4 separate regions of the Homo sapiens genome follow, and regions 1, 3 and 4 are each reported to be linked to region 2. The links are microRNA targets in miRTarBase. Many come from high-throughput screens and were not tested one by one. Region 2 holds a microRNA gene; each other region holds the end of a gene's coding sequence.

What was found. Region 2 holds the annotated microRNA hsa-miR-5011-5p (UAUAUAUACAGCCAUGCACUC, at 4,708-4,728, shown strand). A microRNA usually pairs through its seed, bases 2 to 8, with sites in the 3' UTR of a target mRNA and lowers its output. Matches are read on the target gene's strand: a 7mer-m8 pairs with bases 2 to 8, a 7mer-A1 pairs with bases 2 to 7 and ends in A, and an 8mer does both.
Region 1: miRTarBase lists RTN4RL1 as a target of hsa-miR-5011-5p. Seed matches in the 3' UTR shown: 8mer at 5,371-5,378, 7mer-m8 at 5,370-5,376, 7mer-A1 at 5,352-5,358, 8mer at 5,350-5,357, 8mer at 5,348-5,355, 8mer at 5,346-5,353 and 15 more.
Region 3: the mRNA of MMP16 is a reported target of hsa-miR-5011-5p. Seed matches in the 3' UTR shown: 7mer-A1 at 1,738-1,744, 7mer-m8 at 1,737-1,743 and 7mer-A1 at 885-891.
Region 4: the mRNA of FAM120AOS is a reported target of hsa-miR-5011-5p. Seed matches in the 3' UTR shown: 8mer at 1,606-1,613, 7mer-m8 at 1,608-1,614 and 7mer-A1 at 2,947-2,953.

What each region holds. Positions count from the first base shown.
Region 1 is chr17:1,930,397-1,937,502 of GRCh38, forward strand. It overlaps RTN4RL1 (reticulon 4 receptor like 1), which reads right to left. Exons shown (of 2, transcript NM_178568.4): 2 at 4,281-7,106. The coding sequence ends at 6,100. Among named protein-coding and RNA genes, the nearest start is that of RTN4RL1-AS1, 84 kb to the right of the region's middle. RefSeq lists enhancers at 1,256-1,821, 1,822-2,386.
Region 2 is chr18:67,076,900-67,084,022 of GRCh38, forward strand. It overlaps MIR5011 (microRNA 5011), which reads left to right and starts at 4,685; the gene lies at 4,685-4,787.
Region 3 is chr8:88,035,232-88,042,354 of GRCh38, forward strand. It overlaps MMP16 (matrix metallopeptidase 16), which reads right to left. Exons shown (of 10, transcript NM_005941.5): 10 at 1-6,564. The coding sequence ends at 6,230. Among named protein-coding and RNA genes, the nearest start is that of DCAF4L2, 160 kb to the left of the region's middle.
Region 4 is chr9:93,441,089-93,448,211 of GRCh38, reverse strand. FAM120AOS (family with sequence similarity 120 member A opposite strand) reads left to right here. Exons shown (of 3, transcript NM_198841.4): 3 at 515-4,880. The coding sequence ends at 601. Among named protein-coding and RNA genes, the nearest start is that of FAM120A, 7.0 kb to the left of the region's middle.

The DNA of each region.
Region 1 (7,106 bases), not on the chromosome of region 2:
GCACATCTTGCAGCAGCAATGTCAAATTCTGCCGTTCAGGCATGCCATTAGTGTGCACGCTGCCACACAGGAATCGGTGACACAAAGGCACATCCTTCCCCACCCTCCTGGAGCTTAGAAACTAACGGCTCTAATGAGAAATGAGGGCAGAGAGGAGAGAGATGGGGGCGGGCCCCCTCCTTGTGGGCTGGCGCTGGTGTCAGAGGAGGCTGACCCACTTCTTGTGGTGGTGAGGGGCCTTGGCGGCCAGCCCACTGAAATGCCACTTAAACCAGCCGCTGCTCCCTGCACGAGGGTCTCCTTTGTCCAAACCCCTCACTCGGCGCTCTTGGAGAGAGCCCTGTCCCCCTGGTAGTACAGCTACTCTCTCTGCCTCGCTTCCTTTTCTCCCCCAGGGTCCCTTCACCTCATGGGCTCTTCAGGGCCCAGACTCCCCTGCCTTCAGCAGCCCTCTCTGGAGAGACCGGCAGGACCGCGCGAGGGAGGGTGCTCAGGTGGCCATGCGACGCGCCGAGCCTCTCTTCTTTTCCCGGCTTTTTGATTGTGCCGTGAGTTATTTAGCCAACAATAGATGTTTATGTATTTTTTTAGAGCTCATATTTATTAACAGCCTGGGAAGGAGGAGACCGGGAGATTTATACGGAAAGCACGGTGAGTTAAAAGGGACAATTAGAGGAGCAGAAAGATACCGAGCATAGAATTCTAAAGGATATTTTAACGCACAATCAAAGGTTCTTGAGATATTTTCCAAGTAGACAGAAGGTAAAAGAAAATTGGCCCATTACGAGCTGATAGTGGGGGATTGGTGATGGGGATGGAGTCGCGGCTGATGGCTGAACTCCTGCTTAGAGGAAAGTGAAGTTAGAGGGCAAGGCGGGGAGCTGAACCGGGTCAGGAGGCTTCAGAACGGGGGCTGGAAGGGACTCCATCAAAGCATGCACCCACCCCTCCTCAAAGAATGAACACCAGCCAGGTGCGCTGGCCCAGCCTGTAATCCCAGCACTTTGGGAGGCCGAGGTGGGCGGATCTCTTGAGGTCAGGAGTTCGAGACCAGCCTGGCCAACATGGTGAAACCCTATCTCTACTAAAAAGTTAAAAAATTAGCTGGGCGTGGTGGCTCGCACCTACAATCCCAGCACTTTGGGAGGCTGAGGCAAGTGGATCCCATGAGGTCAGGAGTTCGAGACTAGCCTGGCCAATGTAGAGAAAACCCATCTCTATTAAAAATACAAAAATTAGCCGTGCACGGTGGCTTGCTCCTGTAATCCCAGGTTCTTGGGAGGCTGAGACAGGAGAATCGCTTGAACCCGGGAGGTGGAGGTTGCAGTGAGCCAAGATCGCGCCACTGCACTCCATCCTGGGCGACAGAGCAAGACTCTGTCTCAAAAAATAAATAAATAAATAAATAATAAAACAATTAGCCTGGTATGGTGGTGTGTCCCTGTAGTCCCAGCTAATCAGGAGGCTGAGGCAGGAGGATTGTTTGAGCCTCAGGAGGCTACAAATAAACGCAGAGAAAGACTGCCTCCCTAGGTCAGCATAGAGTAGGACAAATAAACGCAGAGAAAGACTGCCTCCCTAGGTCAGCATAGAGTAGGGCCCGGAGGAGCTGGGTCCCTGGCAGAGAGGTGGGTCGGCTCATGGGCTGGTGGGGCCTGCCTGGGAAGCGGGCGTGCATGTCCAGGGGAATTTGCTGAGGGCTCGGTGGCTCCAGGGAGCCTCCGCAGCAAACTCCTTCCCTCTGACCCCAGTCCCTGCAGCTTGCCCTCCACGAGGCCTCCCGGGCTCTCCCGCTCCCCCCAACCTGCTCACAGGCCTTCCTGGAGCCCATTCACCGTGGCGGCAGAGCGCTGGTGATTAGCTGGGTGATGAGTAAACATTTGCTAAATGGGATTCTTGGCTTTTGCAAAGAACAGCCCCGGCAGGAGAGGAGGGGTGCGGTTGGTGGGAGGGGCTCTGGGGCTGGCTGATGGTCACAGCCCGCACAGGCAGAAGCGCCGGGGTGATCTGAGCTGCTCCGAAGTCAGGAGGGGCTGAGGGCGGCCGCGGCTGGGAAGCAGGGAGCGCAGGCCGTGGAATGCTTCCCAAGCTTGGAAGCAGCAGGTGTCTGGGAATGGGCCTGTGGCCCAGGCAGACTTCCAGCGAGCGCTCCAGCTTGCTGGCACCAGGGGAGGATCTGGCTGAGCCCAGGAGGCAAGTTTCCACCATGAAACCCACTGTTGAAGAACCGCGGCAAGGTTGCCACGGTCAGAAACCACGTGCCTATGGACAGGCTGGGGGGGGTGGGCGGGAGGACGACCAGGTCGGGGGGACCGCACAGCCCCTCCACTTCCACGGCAGAGTGGAGTCCCTGAGCAGAGTCCCCTGGGCCGCTCCCATACAGGGCGCGTCTCCCATGCCCTCAGCTGGGAGTGGTTTGTGGATACCCCAGACACAGTGCTGTTACCACCTCTAGCCCTACTCCCCACACTCTTCTCTGGGTGGCTCCTCATCCTCCAAGACTCATTGGAGTGTCACCTCTGCCTGGAAGCCCTCTCTGACTGCCCCCACCCAGCTGAGCTCCTCATTTTGGGGGCCGAGGGGTGCTACCACAAGCGCCAACTCCATACCAGTTGCGAATACTTGTTTCTACATCTAGGCTCTGAGCTCCTTTTGCCCCGAGCCACGTCTTCTCACGTTTATGTCCCCAGAGCCTGGCCAGTGGCTGGACACGGAGGTCCCTGATCAGCCCTTGTTGAATGAACTATGCAGAGCCAGCCAAGCTCTGGGGTCAGGGGAGGAGCTTGTGTGAAAGGCCTTAGAGACCACCAGTGGCCATCCAGCCCCTCCGACAGGGGTGGCTCTGTCCCCATCAGTCCACAGTGGAGGCCTTCAGTGGCCACCCAGCCCCTCCAACAGGGGTGGCTCTGTCCCCGTCAGTCCACAGTGGAGACCACCAGTGGCCACCCAGCCCCTCCAACAGGGGTGGCTCTGTCCCCATCAGTCCACAGTGGAGGCCTGTGTGGCAGGAGGGCTGGGAGGGAGAAGAGATGACTCCCTCTGGGGGTCCAGGGAAAGTGGGAAGATGGCAGCGGAGGGGTGGCCCCCGCCTCTGGGAAGACCACAGGAATCTGCATCTCCATGCCCTGAACCAGACGCAAGGGGCTGGAGCTGGCGAATAGAGAAGCTTTTGCCTCGCCCCTGACGCGTCCAGTTGCTTTGATGTTTGGGGCGATGGTGTCATCATAACTGCGTAGCATGAGCTGCTGAGTGACAACTGATGTCGTCTGCAACAGAGCTGCCTTGATTCCCCCTACCTCTTAGAGGAGAAAGCTGCTAAAAATACCTGGCGTCCTGGGCCCCCACTGCCTTGCCTCTAATAACAGTCGGCAACCAGAGACTGTGCTGTGCTTGACAGAAGCGGATCATTTATAAAACATTAGCATTTCTCGTACTGACATTTCACTTCCATATTACAGGACTTCCTAAGTCTTTTTTTAAAAAAAAAATTAATAAAGTGCTTAGACTCTTGATTTTCCCACTGAGGGCCTTGCTGTCTGAAGCTGGAAATGAAATCAACAACACAACAACATCCTTGGGTTCTAAGGGACAGCCAGGCCCTAGCACCTCGGCCTGGGTCAGAGCCTGCAGGCCACAGGGGAGCAGGTGCAGGCTGAGGATTCTTTGGTCTGCAGTCACTGGGCTCCCTTTAGTGAATGCCCCAAGCCTCATACTGAGGAGGATTTGTCCAGCCAGGCCTGAAAACACAGCCTTCCTCCCTCTATCCGGGGAACCCTCTCCTTTCTCTGAAGCCAGAGAGACGTGTGCAGTCTCCAAGCCCACCCACAGCTGTCCGGGTGGGTCCCTAGCCTCCTGGAAAACTCCTTGGGCCCCAGGTACTGACTGTTTCCTTGCAGCCGCCCGTCCCCACCAGCCGCCTGCCGGGCGCCCTGAGGATCAGTCACTTAGCCATTGCTCCGGAGACTCCCGGGAATAGGCCAGGAAGGACCCAGGACCAGCCTCCTCCGGGGAGAGCCACGGAGATGGTGCCGACCCGGGGCAGTCAGAATGTGGAAAGTGAATCATGATCTGTGCGGGCAAGGGAAGTGCCACGAAACGGAGCACCAGGGTGTGCGTGCTCTCATGTGTCCCGTGAATCAGTGCGCCCCTGCCCCCTGCGGCTCCTCCCGCCAACAAATGTGCTGTGTTCCCAGAGCTGTGCCCGGCCAGGCTCGCCCACCCACAGAAGCCCAGGATCTGCCACCTGTCGGGAATGCGGGGTTAGGAAATGAAAAACAGGGTTCTTGTCCAAGATCATTTATTGTTATTATTATTTTTCTCTCTTAATTGGATTCAGCGTTTCTGGCTCCTCACACACATCCTCTCTGGTGGGGGATTCAGGTTTGTGCAAAGCACAAAGGAGCTTGTACCCACCTGGGCCCCCGGCCAGCAGCACGGCCGGCTTTGATCGGAGCCCCTCTTCCCTGTCCGGGCTCGCCTGCCCCAGTCCCTGCTTCTGACCCCTGAGTCCGGCCTCCCGAGCCTCTGCCTGCACCCTGAGCATCCCCAGGACGGCTGGGAGGGCCAGGTCTTCCGTGATGCAGAAGTGCCTGAGATGGTTCATGAAATGCCCTCATTGTTCCCCTTCTGCTAAGGCCCCCGACGCCTCCCTCCTGCTGTCCCACACAGGGCCCTTGCTGGGTCACACACCAAACAGCCTCAAGGAAAAATTCAGCAGCTGAGCCGTGCGGGAGGCCTGGGCTCAAGCCCGGAGTCTCCTTGGCCCGTCCAGGCCGTCACTGACCAAACGCTAGGCTGACGACACGGTCCGACCCTTTGGACTAACACTGTGGATGCTGCCTGGCCTGCTGGTTTCCAGATCCCAAAGCCCCTTCCTTCCCCTTCTCCATCTCGCTCACCCTCGGGGCCTGGCTCCCTCATATACAATAAGCTGCTTCTCACTTCTCACCCTGAAGCCAACAGCTACGACAGCAGGGGTGACAGGGCGCTCCAGGGTGGCAGACAGGCTTGTGTTGCATATAAAAACAAGGTGATGCTCTAAATATCTAAGAATATTGGTCCCCCAAAGTGACTCTTGCTGCCTCCCCCTTCCTCACCGTCCCGCCGACACCTTGCCCCAGGCCCTTGGCAAGGCCAGGTCCCTTGGAGACTATCGTTGCCAGTTTGGGATTCTAGACAAAAATTCTATCACTTTGTTTTTGCTAGAAATCACCAATACAATCCTTAGTTCAGCAAATACAGTTTTCTGTATAGTTTATAAACATGAAAAGACGTACAGTTAGGTAACGGAGTGGGAGGGGGACTGTGCATTTGTGTATATATATATATATATATATATATATATATATATATATATATGTAGAGTGTGAATATATATAAGTGGACGTAGTTAGTTATAAAACTGCACCTTCTGTGAGAACCTCATTGCCCGGGATGAAGTTCTAGATTTCAGCCTCTGATGATCTTTCCTTTGGTAATTGGTTCTTGGACCCCAGCAGTTGGACCTGGGTCTGCCAGGGTTGCCTGAGACATCAGGAATGAGAGGCGCTACCCCCGAGGGAGGGGCTGAAGGTGGAGTAGGATAGAATTCAGGGCAGGGTGACTGGCCTCAGGCAAGAGCCAAGATGCCACCTGCTCGTGTGTGCCCAGACTGCTGGCCACCCAGCCTCGTGGGTGAGCCTCATTTGTTCTTCTCTGCGTCCTGCTTTCTCCAGGAACCACGGGGCCCTCCAGACCTCTCGGAACGATCGGGATTCCACAGAGCCCCGGTGCCGCCGTCGGGGGCAATTGTCCCACTGTTGCCAGTGGAGGATGCACTTGGAGTGCCTTTTCCCACCTTGCCAGAGTGGACACTGTCCGTGGGCGCTCTGCGGGGCTGGCTGGGACAGCCGGCTGAGAAGCGCCACCCCCTCCCGCCTAGGGCTGTACACTTTGGGTTTATAATCCACATGGCAGGGTCCAGACGTCCAGACAGCAGCCGAAGGCTCTACCAGCCTTTTCCTGAAACCCAGCAGATCTTCCACTTGTTAAAAAAAGAAGAAAATAAATTCTGTTCCTTGGTGGACATGTGGCAGTGCTGGGTGCTGACGCCCTGGGTCCTCAGCGGAGAGTGACCGCCAGCCCCAGTGTCCAGGCCAGGAGGGAGGCCCCCAGGGAACTGGCCGAGGAGGCCTGCTGCACCCCGCTGGGGGCACGGATGGGGGTCCTGCGGGCACACTTGCCCTTCCTCTTGGGCCGGGCCGTAGGCATGATGTCAAAACTGAACTTGTGCTGGTAGTCTGGGGCATAGTCTGGCAGCTCGGGGGCCTGTTTCCCGGCGCCCGCCTTAGAGATCTGATTGCGGTTCCTGGGGTTGGTGCAGTTCTTCCCCGGCTTCCTGTGGCCGGGCCGGGGGCCGTGCGGGTGGCCCTTGCTCCTGGTGGGGCCGTGGGGTGAGTGGTGTTCCTTGCGGGCGGCCCTGTCGGTGGTGGTGAGCGTGTGTGACTTGATCTGGTGCGGGGACGCTGGTCCCGTGCAGTTCCGGAAGTCCTCGGCCCTCAGCAGCTTCAGGTCCTGGCCGTGCCGCAGCCCAGGGGACACACAGGGGACAGCGGAGCTGGAGCCCCGGAACCTCTGCAGCCATTCCCACAGGGAGCGCGCGCGACAACCACAGTCCCAGGGGTTGCCGTTGAGGCGGAGGAACTCCAGGGCCCCCAGCGGGGCCAGGCACTCACCCTGCAGCTCCGAGAGGCTGTTGTTGAAGAGGAAGAGGGTGGTCAGCCTGCGGAGGTCGTGGAACGCCTTGTGGTGGACCCACTGCAGCTGGTTCTCGTGCAGCAAAAGACGGTCCAGGTTCACCAGGCCCCGGAAGGTGCCCGGGCCCAGACTCCACAGCTTGTTGCCGTGGAGAAACAGGTGGCTGAGGTTGACCAGGTCCACGAAGATGTCGTCCTGGAGGTACTCGATGTGGTTGTCCTGCAGGTAGAGGTACTGCAGGCTGTGCAGGCCGCCAAAGACGCCGGCCGGCAAGGCGCTGAGCCCACACTTGTAGAGGTAGAGGGCGTGAAGCTTCACCAGGCCCTGGAAGGTCTCGGGTGCCAGCGTCCGCAGCTGCCGGTTGTCGCCGA
Region 2 (7,123 bases):
GACCGGCGCTCAACATACAGAGGACCGCGCCGGCACCGGTCTCTGAGTTCCCTCAGTATTTATTGATCATTATCTCTACCATCTCTGAGAGGGGGATGTGGCAGGACAATAGAGTAATATTGGGGAGAGGGTCAGCAGGAAAACATATGAACAAATGTCTCTGCATCATAAACAAGGTAAAGAAAAAAGTGCTGTGCTTTTGAGGTGCATATACATAAACATCTCAGTGCCTTAAAGAGCAGTATTGCCTCCAGCATGTCTCACCTCCAGCCCTAAGGCGGTTTTCTCCTATCTCAGTAGATGGAATATACAATCGGGTTTTACACCCAGACATTCCATTGCCCAGGGACAAGCAGGAGACAGATGCCTTCCTCTTATCTCAACTGCAAAGAGGCCTTCCTCTTTCACTAATCCTCCTCGGCACAGACCCTTTACAGGTGTTGGGCTGGGGGACGGTAAGGTCTTTCCCTTCCCATGAGGCCATATTTCAGACTATCACATGGGGAGAAACCTTGGACAATACCTGGCTTTCGTAGGCAGAGGTCCCTGCGGCCTTCCGCTGTGTTTTGTGTCCCTGGGTACTTGAGAGTAGGGAGTGGTGATGACTTTTAACAAGCATGCTGCCTTCAAGCATTTGTTTAACAAAGCACATCCTGCATAGCCCTAAATCCATTAAGCCTTGAGTCCACACAGCACATGTTTTTGCGAGCACAGGGTTGGGGGTAGGGTTACAGATTAACAGCATCTCAAGGCAGAAGAATTTTTCTTAGTACAGAACAAAATGGAGTCTCTTATGTCTACTTCTTTCTACATAGACACAGTAACAGTCTGATCTCTCTTTCTTTTCCCCACAAGTATTTCAATTCAGAGTTCTTTTGGATTCCTTCAGACTACTCTAGACTCACTTCAAGCAACTGTATCTCAAAGAAGGAACTGTTTTATATATTTTATTACTAAAACATACTATTTAACCCTCAGAATATTCTATCTAAATGTCTTTACTAACTTATCCAATTAGCCTGAAGTCACTTTTTTTTTTTCAGGGAAAAAGATGCAGTAAGGTTTTGAAGACATATTTATAGTACATAAATTGTAACAGTGTTTACTTTAGACCATCTCCAAGGTTAGAGAAATGTGAACAGAACTGTCAGAAGAGTCCCACATGTTTATTTATTCTGACAAAAACATGGATGTGTATGGCCGTGGATCTTTTGTGGTGATCCTATATACAACTGTAACAAATCATCCCAAAACATGATGAAAGTTAATCCTAGGCATTGTAATGTTCTTTTTCAGTCAATAGCTACCTTACTCATTTTTTTTGTTTGTTTAATTTAAGGTACACAGAAATTCTACAAGATGAGCCTTTTCACTCTTATAAAGTAAAATAACTGAGGTAGAGACATTAAGATACCAGCTAACACCCAACAGCTTGCAACTAGGGGAACTGGGTTTCAAAATAAGATAACTCTATCGCCAAACATTGTACTTCATTTTCTAATCATTTCTAAGTAAAGGATTCATAAGGACATTGTTAAGAAAAATAACCCTGCCTTTTAGAAAAAGTTTATATACAATAACACATGGACAAGTTATTACCATGAAATGAAGAACACACTTTGAAAATGGGGTAATGGTGGGTAATTGTTAGATATTTTTTTCTATGTTGTTATGGATTATGCAAAAATAAGATAATGAGAATACATTAATACTTTAAAGATCATAATTCATTAAAATACTAAAAGATATTCACTATATGTTCTTCAGTTATCAAATATTAAATTTAATATACCCCATCATTTCAGATCAAGGATGATGACAAATCATTGCATAGTTGAACATAGATGCCGATGATTGTGGAACAATAGAGAACATAAGCCAGGTATCATGCAAGAAGCATAAAGAGTAGAAGGAAATCCTAGACCTAGTTCATTAATTTGGAAAATTAAAAAGGCATATGATAAAAAGAAATATATTACATCACCTGTATATTACCAGAGCTATGATTATCCAAAAGAAAAGGAAAAAACATCTACATTTATGAAAGCAGAAGCAGTACAAATAAATAAACATATATTTATTTATTTCTATTCTATAAACTGGATAATGTACGTAACTCTACCATGTATATTAGGGTAATTAAGCTCATGAAATCATTTAAATGAAAGTGGATTTTCAAATATTAGACTAGAAAATAATTAAAAATGTGTACTTAGCCCTATAAGTTTTGAGTTCTAGTTGATGAGACAGAAATACTTTTAAAATTTATGAAGTATCCACATTAATATGAAGTAACATTTATTTTACCTTATTGGAATTCTAAACTTTCAGAGTCTTAAGCATGATTTTTCTTTTCTAATGCAATGAGCTCTTTTAATTACAATCATTGTTAAATAAGAATACTAATATATATGGCATTTCCCAAGGTTACTCTGCTTATAACTTTAAAATTTAGCTGTTGCCAAAAAAAAAAATTTCAGCTCAATTTAAATTTCTTTTGTGACAGCTTTTATCTGCTCACCACTGCTTTCTTATGGCAATCATAAATTCTCAATGCGAAGCAAAGCACTGTTCTGCTTTCCTCAAACAAAAGGGAAACTCATCATGTGTTTTATTTTAAGAAGAGCAACATACTTCTCAGGCATTTATTATCTGTATGTCCTCAGGTTTTGTGACAAAAAAGCTATACACACAAACACATCCATGTATGTATAGAAATGTAATTGGAAACATATCAATTTTTTCTAGCCAGTAGATACACCTTCGGACGTCTTGAACTTAAAATGAAAAATTAAAGAAAAACTACATTGCAAACTCTCCATTGTCTCTGGGGTTCTTAGCTCATTTTCTCTGATAAAACCATGGGCATGGACAATTAAGAAATTAAGATGTGACCAATGATACAATAACATCCTGAAAATTGTACAGTAAGCCATCTGACCCTTAGAAACTTGTGTGCAAGTGTGTTTATCTTTGTAGATAGATCTTAATTAAATTACCTGGATCAAAGCTTAACGTATACTAAATTGCCACTCATGAATTATTGTCACACATTCTTGAGACACGGCTTTACAAATTTATATCCTTAAAAACCTAGATTGGAGTGCCTTCTTCACACATCCATGTCTAATATGGATCATGTTGAGTATCTTTGGATATATTAATTTTGCAATTTAATTTCAGAAAAAAGTAGTATAACACTATTGTTTTGATTTATATTTTTCTAATTGCAAAAGTTTTCTAATTTTCATGTATGTATTGGTAATTTGCATTCTATTCCTATAGAATTGTATATATTTTATTTTGTAATTTAGTATTGCTTCTTAAAAATAAATATTGACATTGTATATCATTTCGTTACATATATTGTATGTTTTCCTAATCCATCATGCATCACATACTTTGTTTTCCATATAAATTGTCATATATGTTTATTAACTAACTCATAAATACTCATATCTGTCACCATTTTTTAATGCTTTCTTGTGTTTTGTCATGTTTAGGAACACTTTCCCCACAATTCACAATACTATCTGACAGGTGTTAGTATACCTGTCAGTGTTCTTGGTTGTAGATGACTGAAATCCATTCCAATTGACCTAAACCAGGTAATAGATTATATTGGATAAATCATATAATTATTGGAAGGCTAAAGAAACAGGCTCAGAACAGGGCAGCCCCATGGAAACCAGGTTCCAGAATGGCAGTAAAATCCCCCCACAGGAACAGTCTGATGAGATAGCGCTGCTGCCACCGTGGCACTTCCTCCCCTAGGGCCTGGGATATTTGATGGTTAATTTCTGTACCTCTGTGATGAATACATACTTGTTTGTTTCTTACTGTTTTTACTTCTTGCTTCTGTTTCAAATTTCTCCCCGAAGCCATCTGTTTTAGTTTCCTCAGGCTGCCATAACAGATTAGCATAAAACAAATGGCTAAAAGAACAGAAATGTATTCTCCCCCAGTTCTAGAAGCCAGTTCAAACTCGGGTGTCGGCAGGATTGCATTTAATCCAGGATTCTAGGAGACAATTCTTTCTTATCTCTTCCAGTTCCTGGTAGCTCCAGATGTTTCTTGGAGCTACACTTGGCTATTTAAAGTTAATTTTAATGTTTAATTAACTAAACATTAAAATAATTAAAAAGTCAGTCCCTCCATTGTGTTAGCTGTATTTGAAATACTCAAAGGCACATGTGGCTACAGGCTACTATATTGGACTATGCAAGGGTAGAACACGTGTTATCACACAATGGTCTCTTGCACAGTATTGCTCTAGAATATTCCCTGGACAGAAAAGTTTTACCTGTGGGGCATTAAACAACAAAGAGCCTTACAATTGCCTCTGACTTGTATAGTAAAGCCAACAGTTGTTTGTTGTCATCGTCAGAAAAGTTGATTCCATATTTGAATATGGTTTCACTGCTTGTCATGCTTGGCCAATGCCACAAACCATGGATTAACTGATGGCCTTCTCCACTCTCATGGCTATTCACCCCCAACAATAGAACTTATTTCTTTCATGTTGCCTCATATGGCAGAATCCCCTTCTATTTTAAGGCTGAATAATATTTCATGGTCATATACATATATACACACACACAGTCATGCATTGCTTAACAGGGAAATGTACCTTAAGGCAATTTTATCATTGTTTGAACATCATGGAGTGTCCTTATCCAAACCTAGATGGTATTGAGTGGATGCTGTTATATATACAGCCATGCACTCTGTAGTTTGGGTACACAGTGCATGGCTGTATATATAACACTATCCATTCATCTTTCAGCAGGACTTTTTTTTGGTCACAACCCTGCTAACCAAAACAGGATCTGGCCAGAGAGCATGAAGTGAAGAAACTGATAGGAAGTGGCAGATGTCAACAAAAGCAATCTCTAACTACTCATTGCAATTTAATTGTCATGGTGCTGGTGGTAGTGTCTTATGCTAATGAGCAATATGAGCAGCCTGGCAACACAACCCAGAAGTTACCACCTCTTTCCATGGCAACAACCTAAAAGTTACTGCCCCTGCCTTAGAAAGTTCTAAACAACCTGCCCCTCAATTTGCATTGGCTCACCCCTCAATTTGCATGCATTTGACCTGCCTTAGAAAGTTCTAAACAACCTGCCCCTCAATTTGCATTGGCTCACCCCTCAATTTGCATGCAATTGAATGTGGGTCTCGCTGAGTATAAATACCGTTGCCAAGAGACCATATGTTGCTGACTCTGATTGCACTGCCTATGATTTAGCCCTGCTCTGCAAGGAGCAGTACCATTCAATAAACGATTGCTAAGACTCCTAGCTCATCCTTGAATTTTTTCCGGGGTTAAGCAAGAAATCCTCCCTGGCTAAGCCCCAGTTTGGGGCCTTGCCTGTCCCACAGCAGTGTAACGTACTACACACTTAGACAATATGACATAGACTGTATCTCCTAGGCTACAACTCTGTATAGCTTATTATTATACTGAATGCTATAGGCAATTGTAACACAATAGCATCCGTACATCTAAACATACCAAAACAAAGAAAAATTACACTAAAAACACAGTATCGTAATCTTATTGGACCACATTTATATATGTGGTTTTTTGTTGACTGATGCAATACACAGTGCATGGCTGTATATGTAACACTATCAGTCACCATTCAATGAGCAATTAGGTCGTTTCTATACTTTATTGCTACTAACACTACAATGAAATACATATGGATAAACCTAGAGGGCATTAAGCTAAGTAACTCTTACTTCTAAGATTTCTACCTTAAAGAGTCATATTTATGGCCTTTACTTGAGGTAAACTTCAGAAGCCATTTGTTGTGGATTAGGTAACGTGTGGAGAAATTGCTTTGTTGGGTTTTTCTTCCTTTGCATTTTAGTTTACACATATTAATTGTATGTATTTATAATCTGCAGAGTGATATTTTGATAAATGTATATGAAGTGTAATGATCAAATCAGAGTAATTAGGATAAACATCACCTCAAACATTTATCATTTCTTCATGTTTGGAATATTCCAAATCTCTTCTAGTTTTTTTAATATACACTATAAATTATTATTAACTATGCTTACCCTATAGTGCTATAGAACACTAGAACTTATTCCTCCTGTCTAGCTGTGACTTTGTATCCATTAATCAACCTTTCTCTGTCTTTAATAACATTATCAAACTGTGATTACCATAATTCTACTCTATACTTCTATAAGCTCATTTTTTAACTCCCACATATGAGAGAACATGCAGTGTTTATCTTTCTGTGCCTGACTTATCTCACCTAACATAATACCTTCCAGGTTTATCTGTGAATGGCAGAATGACAGAATTTTATTTTTCATGACTGGATATTATTGTATTGTATATATATGCCACAATTTCCTCAACTGTTCATCTTTTAAAGAACATTTAGCTTGATTCCTTATCTTGGCTATCACGAATAGTGCTGCAATAAATATGGAGATACAGATACGTCTTCTATAATTGATTTATTTTCTTTGGGTAAATACCTAGTAATGGGATTGCTATATCATATGGTGGTTTTATTTTTAGTTTTTTGAGGAACTTCCATACTATTTTCCATAATTACTGAACTAATTTGCATTTCCATTAACAGTGTACAAAACACAAGACTTGCTTTTTCTCCACATCCTTGCCAGCATGTTACTTTTTTTTTTGAGGCAGAGTATCAGGTCTCGCTCTGTTGCCCAGGCTGGAGTTCAATGGCGTGACCTTGGCTCACTGCAACCTCTGCCTCTTGGGATCAGGCAATTCTTCTGCCTCAGCCTCCCAAGTAGCTGGACTACAGGTACGTGCAACCACATCCGGCTAATTTTTTGTATTTTCAGTAGAGACGGAGTTTCACCATGTTAACCAGGCTGGTCTCGAACTCCTGACCTCAGGTGATCCGCCAGCCTCAGTCTACCAAAGTGCTGGGATTACAGGCTTGAGGCACTGCGCCTGGCTGCTTTTTTTCTTTTTATTATAGCCATTCTATTATATACACTTCCCTGATCATTAGTGATGTTGAGCAGTTTTTCATGTATCTGTTGGCCATCTTTATATCTTATTTTAAGAAATGTCTGTTCAGATTTTTTTTGCCCATTTTATAAATTATATACATAT
Region 3 (7,123 bases), not on the chromosome of region 2:
TGATTCTTATCCCTTTTTAAGGGCATATAAATTCAGCTCTACAGCAGAGCACATGGGAAAGTTATATGAATCTGTACAACATTCTAGTTTATGATGTATTTTCCTATACTGTTCAATGTGCCCTTTAATGTGAGGACACGCTGAGTGCACATTTGAATATCATCCCCAGTCCAATGATGCATAAAACAAATTCTAAGACACACTCATCTTTAAGTTGAAAAGGCATAGAATCCTCAGAAATCTCTATAAATAAATGTCTTTCATACATAACTTTTTATACTTACTCTGCACTGACCATGAGTTCTGGTTTATGCCCTTATTTGCCTTAGAAAACATTAGTTATGAATGTCTGTGAAGTCTCCGTTATAACACTAAGCTTCTGTGATCTTATATCCTTACTTAGTATAAATAAATAATATTGTTCTAATAAATGATGCATGTCACGTCCAGTTATAAGCCCATAATTGTGTTTAAAAATTGAAGACTGCTATGTACTTCTGTATTCTACTCAAACATTGACAGGAATTTTACAATATGTGTTTTTCCCTTAATTTCTGTGAGTATGTCCAATCAGTGTTCATTCTTAGGCTTTCTATACTATTGGTTTAACTTTCAAAGTAGACATACGTATAAAATATTGAAACATATATTTGTAATTGGATGTTATTAATCTTACCTGAAATATTTCAGAATTGTTTCAAAATCACACCAGTGGAAAAAGTGGAAAATGATTTCAGAAGTACATGAAAGACAAAGGTCACAATTAGATGAGACTAGAACATGAAGGCAACTTCTTTGCTACTACGCCAAGTGTCTTAGATTACATGAGTATTGAGGTAAATTTCTATTTCAGGGAAATGGCTTGTCTCAGGGGATTCTAACATTATATATCTTTCCAACTTGAGGTTACTGAACACCTACCTCTTACATTTTTAGCCTGTAAGGCAATGCATGAGTATCAGATGTGTTTAAGCACAGTAACATCTAATGACCACTGGCTAAATATTACATTGATATATCACATAATCATCACTAGTGCAAAGAGCTTGAAGTTGGATTTTTTTCCTCCACTATTTTATGCTTGCTAAAGTAAAATTTCCAGTTGTATTATCAAGGAGTGTTATAGTTTGTCTTTATATTTAACAAAAGACTCATTTTTCCTCCTCCATTTCCATCATATTATATAAATATGAAAGCTAAATATAATAATTAGCTTTCATATTTGTTGCGTTGCTATTCCTGGTTGCCGCTTTATTTATTACATAAAATTCTAATTTTTAAGATATAACTGTTAAAAATTTTCTGATGTAGTTATGATTCCCTCCTAGGCAACGTGGAGCCTGTAACTTAACTGCATATGCTCTGGCACCTATTTCCTGTGGTCACAATATATCAACAACATGAAGGTACATGAAATACAGCCGAATGATTAGATCCTCTTATATGATTGACTTGACACATTTTGTGATATTACATATTGGCTGAGATTGCTGTAATAGGTCATCTGAAATGCACATTTTTGGTTTATATAGCATATTCTATTTGACATCTGTGATACTTTGGAATATGCCCTTGAAAGCATCAGAAATGAAATAAGCTCTTTACTGTGTTTGCTAAAAAAGACCTTACCACCATCCAGAAGATTGTTTCAGTATATACTACAATCTCACAGACTCAATACTACCAGTAAATAATTCCCTTTATTAGTTTCTGGAAATGATTCCAAAAACTTTAAAATATATATTTTTTCATGACTCAGTTTAACTCAGTCTGTCTGTCTGCTTATAACATCCATTCCTCTTCAGATAGCACTTTGAGTTTAGTTAATATGGACACACTATTTATTCCACTGTAAGATCCACAAAGTGTGGGCGTGTATGTGTACCATACTAGATATATTAGCATAACATGTAGAACTTGCAAATATGACTACCCCTACAATCCAGTTTACACACCATCATCTATGTATTGGAACTAGCAGTGAAGTTTGGACAATGTTCTTATCCACCACATTGTGTTTTTTAATGACCCACAGAGAGGGAATGAAAATAGGTACACAGTATATGAAATGGCCAAATTATGTGTTAACAAAAAAAGATTATAGGTAATTATTAAAGGTAACACTTGCTTATGTGTTAACAAAAAAAGATTATAGGTAATTATTAAATGTAACACTTGCTTATTTCAGTAAACCAGTCTGTATCTTTTATTACTTAGTAATTATTTTTGGTAATCATTACTTAGTAATTTATCACATCGATTCAGAAAAGCCTTGCCCTCTGATTTATAACAGAAGTTGTCTTTGCTAGTATCACATAATGCTGTCTAATTTAGCTCTATAACCTTTGCAATCAGAAAGAGCATCTGTATTCACCTGCTCTGACTGCCATGTCAACAGACACTGTTCTGAAATGAGTCAATAAATTCACAACCTTATCTACAATTCTGATGCGGAATTACTGCTTTACAGGAAATTCAAACTGATCAGCTATTTTAATACTTCATTGCATTTGTTTAATAATACACAGAACAACAATATTTTACTAAAATTCTTAACTATATGGTCATTTTACATGAAGACCATTACCTTGTTTACATTTGTGTTTATATTAGATAAAGTAATGAGAAATGAAGCAGAAGGAGAATTATTTTTGCAGGCATGAATGTGTTTTCATTTCAATTTGGGAAATCCTATGTCTGAGCTTTTCATGTTATTAGTGATGGGGTGATGAAAATATTTTATGCCTTGCATATCTCTAGTAACACTGAACTGACACCTTATGTTATTGACCCATGGAAATTTATTCTGCATTGGTTTTGAATCACTATTCTTATGTGCTAGATGAATTACTTTCCCTTTCACTGTTCCATTTGGTTTGAGACTTTTTTCCCAAACCTCATGTAGAAGAGGAGTCAGGAACCATACCCACAAAGTAGCTGGTGTACAATAAACAAATGGAATCCCACTGTTTGTGATTACATTGTCCTTATTGTCTTCTTATCTCTTGTAATAGTACAGCCTGATAACTGAAATGTTCTGTTCAAAAGAGCAGCCTTATATGCCTTTGCTTATCACATAAATCTTGTCTCATATTAAAGTAAATATGACCCAACCCTTATTCATGACATTTGCCAGAATTCAAGCATAATGATAGACTCCTTCCTTCTTAATGCTATGATTATTTTCTAGCCCTTATATACTGATAGCCTTATGACGAATCAGGATATTGTGATGAATGAGTAAAGAGGCAACAGATTGCTTATTCAGTTTCTTTCTCATTTTAGAGGAAAAAAAAATCAATTTTCAATGCAGGGTGATGGAGTTCCTCAATGATTTGCACATGTCCCAAAATGACACAGTTCCTCATTTCTATCTTTAGCAAAATATAGTTTCCAGTTATTTTTTTCTTGACATCAAGGCCCTAAAAGGATTAAACCCTCCCACAAGCAAACACTGTATAAACGAGCTTATGTATATAGTCCTCCATGCTTAGCAGCAGTGACTAACTCTTTATAATATCAGCATCATCTAGAATGGAAGCACTGAAGTAAAGCTACAGGGCTGACTCTGGTTCTCATTTCTTGCTTTCTTGGCCCTTGCGTACATAATCTCCAATATCCTCTTAAAATATTGTCTGCATTGTATGATATTTTACTGTAAAGCCATTCTTCTTTTCTTACTCTTCTTTTTTCTTAGGCTCATACTATATACGCTCAGGTTGTAAGAAATAACAATCTGCAAGGCTTTGCAGCATGCCACCCACAATTATAAAATATTTTCCCCAACCAAATCATAAACATGTAGTTTAACCAAAAGGCATTCTAATTTTCATGCTACGTTGAGTATAAATATAAATTCAAGGCAGCCAAACTATCCATTTCCAAATAAGAATGTATACCTACACTCATTAAAAATCATCTGGAAATGTGTATTAGCAAATGAGTAAGAAATTTTTACTAGTATAAAATTCCTGCTTTATATAAAAGCCACACTGGCCATTCAAGTATTTGAGGTTTTTTTTTTCCTATAGTTTTTGTAATTTGTACTAAAATGATGAATTTAGACTTGAAATTATATTAAAATGAAATTAAAATTCACTTCTACCTATAGGGCATTTTCAGAGTGTGCATGTAAAGAGCAAAGTGTCCATCTGCAGATCTGCCATCACCACTCTCTCCACTCTAAGGAAACAGCTCATGCTTACTAGGTTTTAGAGAACAACTAATCCAATGGAGAAGCAACACCAGATTTCCTTCAGTTTGTGCCAGTTTGCAAGTTAAAGGTCAAAGGGCAAAGACATAGAACAGGACTCTTCAAGGAAAATTTTCACAGAAGACAATGTTTAAGTTGTTGTTAATGACAGTCAATAGATCAATAATCAAGTTCAAGGCAAGCTGTTCATTGTTTCAAAAGCTAATCCCCTCAAAGCTGGCTTTCACACAAAGCCAATGTCTGACTCATGGGGTGCATTCATTCTGACCATCTCTAATAAGTTCACAGCCCAGTGGCTGTAAAGCCTTTCACTGCAAGAAGCAGCTCCTAAAAATCAATAAAGAGGTCTGTCAGTTGCTGACTTTTCTCTAGGAAAAAAATATTGATACAAACCTGCTCTGCAGGTCACATGAAAATGACAATACTGCTGTTAGGACAAATTACACTCAACAATGAAATGCTTTGGTGGTCTCTTGGCTCTGTCAGTGATCAAATGGACGGCTAAATGCCAGAAGCCACACTAACCCTTTGAGAACTATGGTGGACATGCAATAGGTAATGCACTGGAGGATATTCATGCAACTTCAGAGTCACCGTTTTAATTCATTTTTAAAATGGCAATGCTAACTGCATATACCAAGGCAAATTGAATTTTCATGCAATGGATTTTAAAACAGAAATTCAGTATGCCTAAAAAAAAGAAAAGAAGACTTAGGCTATTATCAGTTTTTCAAATAAAATTTCAGATTTATGAGAATCTTAATAAAATACCTTTTTTATTTGCCAGAAAAATTTTGGCAAGTAACATCATTTCTGTTTGTTATAAACACATTTATGTAGTCTTGTAAATCATTTAAAAATTATATGACATTATAGGATATCTGTTTTAAAAACCTGAACTTCTTGAACTTGTGACTGTTTTTACCATTGCCCAGTTCTATAATTTATCAGATCGCAAGACCGACAATCCTAAGACTCTGAAAGCTGGTCTGATAGTTCTCAAAGGGTTACACGGGTATGTTACTAGTGTCACAAATCCTTGTAAAATAACTGCCACTGTAATCCACTTCAGAGACATACTGCTTCTTGCTCTGCTTTGTAACGAATATTCCTGACAGACCCATGGAAGGCCTGGGGCAATGGCCTAATACAACTTGGGAAGATTATCACAATGATGGAGGAGTAAGGTGGAAAGAAGGGGTTTAGAAATACTTCAAAAACAATTAAAAGGTCGTGTTTGAAAATAGCTATGAATATAAATGCGATGAAACACTGAGGACATAGCTGAGAACAGCTGTATAAAACGAAAAATGGATGTATTATTAAGGCTGTTACTATATTGCAGATATTTTGGCCCCTTGGTTGTTGGAAAATGGCTGTCCCAACAGTCTAACGTCCTGCATGTGTATTCCAAATCTCCCACCTGACAAAATGGTGCGTAGGAGACTATCCAAAGCAGTCAGAGAGCTATCTTCTTTGGAGACAAAGCTGTTTTGGGTCTTCACACTTTCCTGGAAGTTCAATTGTGGGTTTTTTGTTTAAACTCTTTTTTCCCTTTGTTTTAAAGCAAAAAAAGAAAAAAAGAAAAAAAGAAAAAAAGAAAAACCGTGGGTTTTCTGATTTGCTTTTTTTTTCTCCCCCCAGAAATGGGCTCAGACTTCAGAAGGAAAATAACATTAGAAACTTTTAAGAAGAATCTTTTCTTCTTTTTCTCCTCTTCTTTAGTTAATCCTGAAATTTTACTGGGCATTGAGCGTGCAGAGGAAAGGCCTAGAACTGAATGACAAAGAAAGACAAAGGACTGAAGAACAGCAGATACTGTGCATCATGGAAGCTTCCCCATGAGTGTATTTCCACTCATGTGCAGGACCAGCAACCCTCTGGGTTTGAAAGGTCAGCCCCGAATCAGGCTGCCACAAGCCTGCTCCTAGCTAGGAAACAGCATAACAGCTCTTGTCTTGAATCTCAAGTTACCACAAACTCCTGCAAAAGAAAGAAAGAAGAAAAAACCCTACATCACACCCACTCTTGCATAGAGCGTTTACAGTACAGTATGTGGCGGGGTGTTCCTTTCCTCTTGAACTGGAACACAGTGTAAACCAATACAAGGAGGCATAAGGCCAAGATGCAGGGAATGACAATAGCTATGGCTTTCACAGTGCTGGCTGTGTTGTCCAGTTTGATGACAATGTCTACATCATCTGGTGGGCTGTGTCCTTCTTTAACTCTGTCTGTTGGTCCATCACAGCCCATAAAATCCTTGAGGATGGATCTTGGATATCCAGGTTCTACCTTGAGTATCTGGTTGTTGAATTTCCAATACTCCTTTCCTTTGTAGAAATACGTAAAGCCTAGGGGGAAAAACATACACACACACAGGTACCACTTATTTGTGACAGTGTATATGTAGAGAAATGTTACTAAAATAGGCTATGTCTTAAGAGATGTATTTTAAGGCCCTTTAATTTTCATAGGAAGAAAACACTATTTTCAGCTCAGCTGTCTGTTAAGATGGCTGTGGCTGCTGTGCTCCAGGAATGATGCCATCTAATGCCTATGGAAAGCTCAGTCCAGAGAGAGAAATATCATTTACAGAGGACTGTTCAAAGACCATGCTATGCAGTCTACTCCTAGTCCAAGCTAGAAAAGAGAACCTTATCTTTTTGCTCGCTTACAGGATTGCTGTTACAAAATTACATATTAGTGTGATAGTACCAACCTATATTGAAAGATGCTGAAACAGCCTTATAAACTGAAACACTGTTTACCCTCAGGCTGTTACTGGGAACATTGTTCAATATATGATAAAGTCGCTTCTCTATGAAACACCTCAAGGGAAATTTCTAATCATCTTAGTATCAGGAATCTGTGCTCCTTCTAAACAACAGGCTTCCTTTTGTAATTTGCATG
Region 4 (7,123 bases), not on the chromosome of region 2:
TAATATCATTAATTAATATTTTACTTAGGTGAGGTATCTAACCACCAACAATAACAGATGAGTTTCCAGTTTTTCAAACAAGGTAATAAGAGACCTTAATGCTGCCCATGTAATCATTAGCAGATGTTGGGAGACCAGCAGACTGGAGCTAAGCAGGGAGTCTGCGATCATGGAAGAGAGCAAATTAATCCACACTAGGGATTCTAACCTATAATGTTTACCTAGCACCAGCCCTGTTAATTAATTGTCAATTTAAATTACCCAGAAGAACACACACATCTGTAGGCCTGCTTCATAAATGGTAGATCAGTAACTGACCACACTGCAGCCGTGTATCGGCAGTTGAGTTTTTTGGTCTTCAGGCTCTGCTATCTCTCCAGTACTATGAGTTATCAGCAGTAGCAGAGGGTAGGAGAGCTCCACAGAGATCAATATTCGGACTCTGGAGACCATGACAAAATACATTTCATATTCCAAACTAATATATAAACTACCTTTTTTTTTTTCTTTTCAGATTTCCAGAAGCTGTTCTGTCAATAACAAAGTCTCAAAGAAAACCACAAAACCACCAACACTAAGATCATTCTTGAGTCCAATTTGAAAAACTAGGGTCAAGTTCTGCAGAGGCATTGAAAGGACAAGAAACCACCCTGATACCCATCGTGTGAGGGAAAATGCTCTATTCACCATTCCTCAGCTTCTGCTTCTGGTTTCAGAGTTCTCTCTATATTGGAGGGTGTTTTAAAGCTAGAGTGGTCTTTATCCACTTTTATTAACACATCTGAATGTGAAGGTCAAGAGAGGAAAGTGATATGTCCTAAGTCAGAGTAGAGTCAACAAGAAAATAAGACAAACAGCGACTGAGCCCCTGGTGTATACTGGGCATTGGCCAGCTACTGGGGATATGGAGATGAAGAAAACATAACCCTTCTTCAAGGAGCCCAACCTACCAAGGTAGACAGACATATAGACAAATAGATACTTGCATAGAAAAAAAGAGGAAAAGGGGATCAGTGTGACCTGTGTAACTAAGTACCCTATAAACCCTCCTGCAACAGATCATATTGCCCTTTATAGTGGGGATGGTAATCCCATCTGAATTCCACAGGTACTTTGCAGTCATACCACACCCATGTGTCTGTCGGTCCTGACTGTACCATTTATAAACAGCTTCACTTTCAGCAGTTCTCAGCCCTCTTAAGCTAGGGTCATTGTCAGTAGGGATACTGCTTCATAAGCACCAGCAGAACACCAAAGGAGACCATATGGGTGAAAGCAACCAGCACTGCCCTGGCGCTTCATAGGTTCTTAGAGTTTTTATCTTTTACTTTCAGTCTAACACAGCACTGCCTGCTTTTTGTTTTTGTTGCTTGGTTTGTTTTTTTCTTACCGTGTTCACCAAACTTGTGTCCAAATAGCTTTGGGCTGATGCAAAAATATCTATGTGGAAGAGAAGAGTTGTTCTCATGGAGGGCCTTCAGATGAGTGCTATAGACTCTCTAGGCAACTCCAAGAGGCTTCTCAAGCAGGGTGGGCAGTGAGAGCTGCTATGGAATCAATGGACAAACTGACAGGGACTGCTTTGAAAGACAGTACTCAGTTGAGTATATATATTCTCTCTTAAGGGCTAAAAGTTTATAATCATCCCTTAAACACTCTGTGATGGGATCTTCAGGATCATCTTTTGAAGTAAACTATATTTTACAATGTGATATAAATCAAGTGAGTTTTTTTTTTAATTAGGAATTCCCGTAAGTATAAAGCCATTTTAAGATGTACATTTTAGAGACTAGCTATTGTTAAGTGGTCTGTTACATTTGTGTAAACCATAAAGATCTTTCCAGAGGAAGCAAGTCTCTCATACCAGAATATGAAAACACTAGCCCCAGGCTTGAGTAACCTAGATCACATGAAGCTGACTTCCTCTGAGGAGTCTAGGACCTCAGATATAGGTGGGAGCACACAATCACCCTTCTGGAAACAGCTAAGACTTGTGGCTCAGGCGTTTGACCTTGCTGACAAAGGAAGAGGTCAGGGTTGACGAGAGCTCCAGGAAGAATGAAAGTGCCTCTGGAAGGCAGGAAGAAAGTTACTGTAATACTTTATCCTTAGGGTGGAACAAGAGTCTGGGAAAGCTCTGCCCTATAAAGTCCCCTTCCCCATTCCTCCCAGGTCCCAGGTGTGGTGGTATAAGGAGAGTTGGCCCAATCTGGGAGCTGAGGGATCTGAGACATCCATCTACTGCATCAGTGCACTCAGAAGTGAGGATTTTGGCACAGTTATTCATGAGACATCAGCCCATCATATAAAACATGCCTCCAGTTTGGTTAAACTAGGAAGCACTATATAATATTTTAAAATCAGTTACATGTCACTGATAAAAGACTTAGTATTACCATGATGTTATTTTTCTTGAGGCAACATGATGAAACCCATTGTCTACAAAAAATCCAAAAATTAGCCAGGTGAGGTGTGCACCTGTAGTCCCATCTTCTCAGGAGGCTGAGGTGGGAAGACTACTTGAGCCAAGGTGGTGGAGGTTGGAGTGAGCCCAGATTACACCACTTGCACTCCAGCCTGGGCAACAGAGTGAGGCCTTGTCTCAAAAAAAAAAAAAAAAAAAAAAAACAACGATTTTTATGAAAGTTGGAGAACCAGGATTAAGACTGGGTGGGAACTAAGAATGACAGGTACTTTTAACAATACAGCTGGGATGCTGTTGATGACATGAATGAACCCCACTCTTACTGTAGTCATTTGCTCAAGATTCAAAGTCATGAAAAAGAGTAGAATGGACCAAACTTAGGTACTAAGAGTCCCCAGCCTGGCAGTGAAAACAGTATAGTTCCTTTGACTTTAATATGGGGAAACAGGTTCCTGGATTGACGATCTCACCAAAACTATACACAATTTTTTTTTATTTTTTCTCAGACCTTTCAGGGATGAATATATACAATTTCTGAGAAAGAAACCTGAGTACCTTTAGGAAGGGAAAAGGAATGCTGAATATCCCCAAATAACATGTCTTACATGTTTGGTAAGACTTACTGTACCCTGTCCTAGAAGATAGAAGATGCCCTGCCCTTAGAAGACAAAGAGACTGTAGAGCTATGCCTTCTAAATCTTAAGCCACTCTTCAGATAATGGATCCCTTCATGGTCAGCCCAAACATCTCAAGAACTTTTAATTTGTACCGTTTGTCTTTTTTTCCATTTATTTAATACCACAAATTCACTTTATTATTATGAAGCCAATATCTACATCTTCTCACAAAGATTCTCTTAAGAAATGCAGAACTGGCCGGGTGCAGTGGCTCATTCCTGTAATCCCAGCACTTTGGGAGGCCGAGGCGGGTGGATCACCTGAGGTCGGGAGTTCAAGACCAGCCTGACAAACATGGAGAAACCCTGTCTCTACTAAAAATACAAAATCAGCTAGGCGTGGTGGCACATGCCTGTAATCCCAGCTACTAGGGAGGCTGAGGCAGAAGAATCCCTTGAACCTGGGAGGCGGAGGTTGCGGTGAGCCGAGATCGCACCATTGCACTCCAGCCTGGGCAACAAGAGCGAAACTCCGTCTCAGGAAAAAAAAAAAAAAGCAGAACTCCTTACTGGCCTCAAAACATACTGTGACATTTCCGTAACCTACAGGTCTAGAAATCCTGTGCCAAATATGGTTAACTTGTTTGCTGAGAAGGATGTGGAAGAACTGGAACCCTCATACACAGCTGATGGGAAAACAGTCTGGAACTTTCTTAAAACATTCTGGTAAATGGGGGCCCGGCAAGCTAGAAAGTGTGGCTATAATCCCTTGCTTTTTTCCTTTTTTAAACTTTTTCTCTCTCAGTCCTGACCTAAAGATGACCCTAGTCAGGCTGGACACGGTGGCTCACGCCTGTCATCCCAGCACTTTGGGAGGCCAAGACGGGTGGATCACCTGAAGTCAGGAGTTCAAGACCAGCCTGACCAACATGGAGAAACCCTGTCTCTACTAAAAACACAAAATTAGCTGGGCGTGGTGGTGCATGCCTATAATTCCAGCTACTCGGGAGGCTGAGGCAGGAGAATCGCTTGAACCTGGGAGGTGGAGGTTGCAGTGAGCCGAGATCGCGCCATTGCACTCCAGCCTGGACAGCAAGAGCAAAACTCCGTCTCAAAAAACAAAAACAAAAACAAACAAAAAAATTCCCCTGAGAGAAAACCTGTCTTTCCAGCCAGAGGAGCAGGAAAAAATGACCCTATGGTCTGAAGAATGTGGAAATAATCCATCTTTTTTTCTCTCTCTGCTTTCTGCCTGAGGGGCGTTCCTTTTGGCAAAATGAGCAGGCAGTGTAGGCAGGTAATCATCAGAGAGAAAGCCCATCTTTCTAAGCCAGAGGATGAGGAAAAGGGGCCCCCTGGGTGCCAGGGAGTCTGGGGGGAAATCCTGAAGAGCAAAGACCTGAAAAGAGGATTCTCTAATTCTGTACATGAGCTGAATTCCGTGCTCAGCCCAGAGCTGCACATACAAGAGACAGAGCCCAGGCAACACAGCCACACTCTGAACTGACACTCGGACCACCACCACCAAACAGAAGGCAACGCAGGACCTGCAGACTAAGGCTAACGAGGCTGATTGCCTGACAAAACAGAAAAAAAAGAAACATTCTTCAGGGAATTTTAGCAGAACACAGAGTCTCCCAACATAAAACAGACAGTCCTCACTGCACAGCAGTTCAGAACTGTAAAAATGACCTTCCAACCTGAAACTGCCATGTGCTGTTCATAATCATTAATGGGTAAAATTGTGATTTTTTTCCTGTCTTTTGAAAATTGTCAAAACATTGATAATCTTGTACTGTTAGAAATGTATAAGGAAACAATAAAGTAAATATTTTTGTACACTGTAATTTAAAACATTAGCAACACAGGGAATTAAAGTGCTTGATGTCTTCCTAAAAAAACCATCAACAGACATTTAAACAGTGCTTGCCTTCTTCAAAAGTCATGTACCTTATGATATAGAGGGAGCACCTTTTCTGTGTTCAAAAACTTGTCATGCCCCTTCTAAGTTTGGATCAGCTTCCAATATTTTATCCTTTTTGCTTTCAATGTCATGAAATATCTCCAAGTCCCTTTAACGTGAAGGTTTTTGCTGACGTTCCTTCCTCTGGAACATCTTCATCCTTTTCATCACAACCGCTTTCTTCATTTATTTGAGGAATTCACCTTCTCGGCAGCAGTGCCAGCATCCCCATAGTCTGTTTCTTCAGTGACCCCATTTATGTTTGATTTGCATTCACGTTCAGTGTTTTCAGTTTGAGTTTCTTTGCTGCATTTCTATCTTTATTTGTCAGTTTTCTCTTTTGAATATCCATTTGTGTAAAAATGCCATGTGGGTTTATCACTGGAAGACAAGGAGGCCACACAATTCACACTTTGCTGTCTGTGCGTGAAATGAACACAGATGCACAGTGACCAATCACCCGTAGGTTTTGGAAAGAAGAGGCATGATTGGTCACTGATCATGATGTACCTGTGTTATTATGTAGTGATTTGTGGACTGGGGAGCTAGCAGAAAGTTTGAACTTCATGCAATTACAGTTAATATATTCTGGTAACTCAAATTTGAACCATGTTGTCAGGGGACTGGTGTTCACCATAATAACTAAAATTTCAGAATCATGAAATGTCACTTCTGATATAGTCTATTCATTAAAAGTCAGTCCTAATTCTGGCTCACACTCAAGGGGAGGGGAATTAGGCCCCAGCTTCTGAAGAGAGGATCTCCAATTAATTTGTGGACATATTTTAGGATTCTTCAGGAAGTCCATATTCCTGAAGAATATTGGCACTGGGTATAGAATTTTGGATGGATGATTCTTTCCTATGAGTGCTTTAAAGGTATTGTTCCACTGCATCCTGGCCTACATGATTTTTTATTATATGTCTGAGATAACCCGTATTTCAAATTGTTCTTCCCTATACCGAATGTGTTGGGTTTTTTTCTGGCTACTTTCAGGATTCTTTCAATCTTTGGTTTTCAGCAGTTCGATTATGATATGCTGAGCATCTTCTTTGGATTTTGCTGAGTTTCTTGAATGTGTATTTATATTGTTTGTCAAATTTAAGAAGTTTTCAGCAGTTATTTCTAAAAACTTTTTTTGTGTCTGCACCAATTTCTCTTTTCCCTCTGAGACTCTAGTGTCAAAAAATACGTGATTTTCTGGTGTTGTCTCCCAGGATCCTGAAGTTCTATTCATTCTGTTTAATCCATTTTCTCAGTGTCCTCTGGTTAATTTCTACTGATCTGTCTTCAATTCACTGACTCTTTCTTTTGTTATTTCCATTCTGCTAGTAAGTCCATCCATTACATTTTTTAACTTCAGAAATATAATTTTTTCAGTTCTAGAATTCTTAATTTTCATAGCTTCTGGGTCTCCATCAATAACTTCTTTCTTTCTTTTTTTTTAGGCAGAGTCTCACTCTGTCACCCAGACTGCGATCTTTGCACACTGCAACCTCCGCCTCCCAGGTTCAAGCAATTCTCCTGCCTCAACCTCCCGAGTAGCTGAGATTACAGATGTGCATCACCACGCCCGGCTAATTTTTGTGTATTTTTAGTAGAGACAGGGTTTCACCATGTTGGCCAGACTGGTCTCGAACGCTCAACCTCAGGTGGTCCACCCGCCTTGGCCTCCCAAGGTGATGGGATTACAGACATGAGCCACTGCGCCTGGCCCTTTGTTTTCATCTTAAGAGCACAGTTATAAAAGTTGTTTTAAGTTGTTGTCTGATGATCCAAGATCTGAGTCATTTTTGGAATGACATGTGTTGGTTGTCTTTTTCCTTGTGAATAGGTCATACTTACCTGGTTGCTTGCGCATCTAGTAATGTTGGATCATATTCTGGATGTTTTGAATACCAAGTCCCAAGAGTCTGCAACTTGTTAAAATCCCTGGAGAAGACTGATTGTAAGCAGACAACCAATTCAGTTAAGTTCAGATGACAAACTGTCTCCCCTTCTGTGGTGGTGGTCCCGGTGGCACCACTTCAAGTTTCAAAGACTCTGTTCACTTCTCTGTATCTGCCTGTGCATGTGCGGCTTAGGCCTGAGCCCAGGACTTGTGCCAGCCCATACCCAG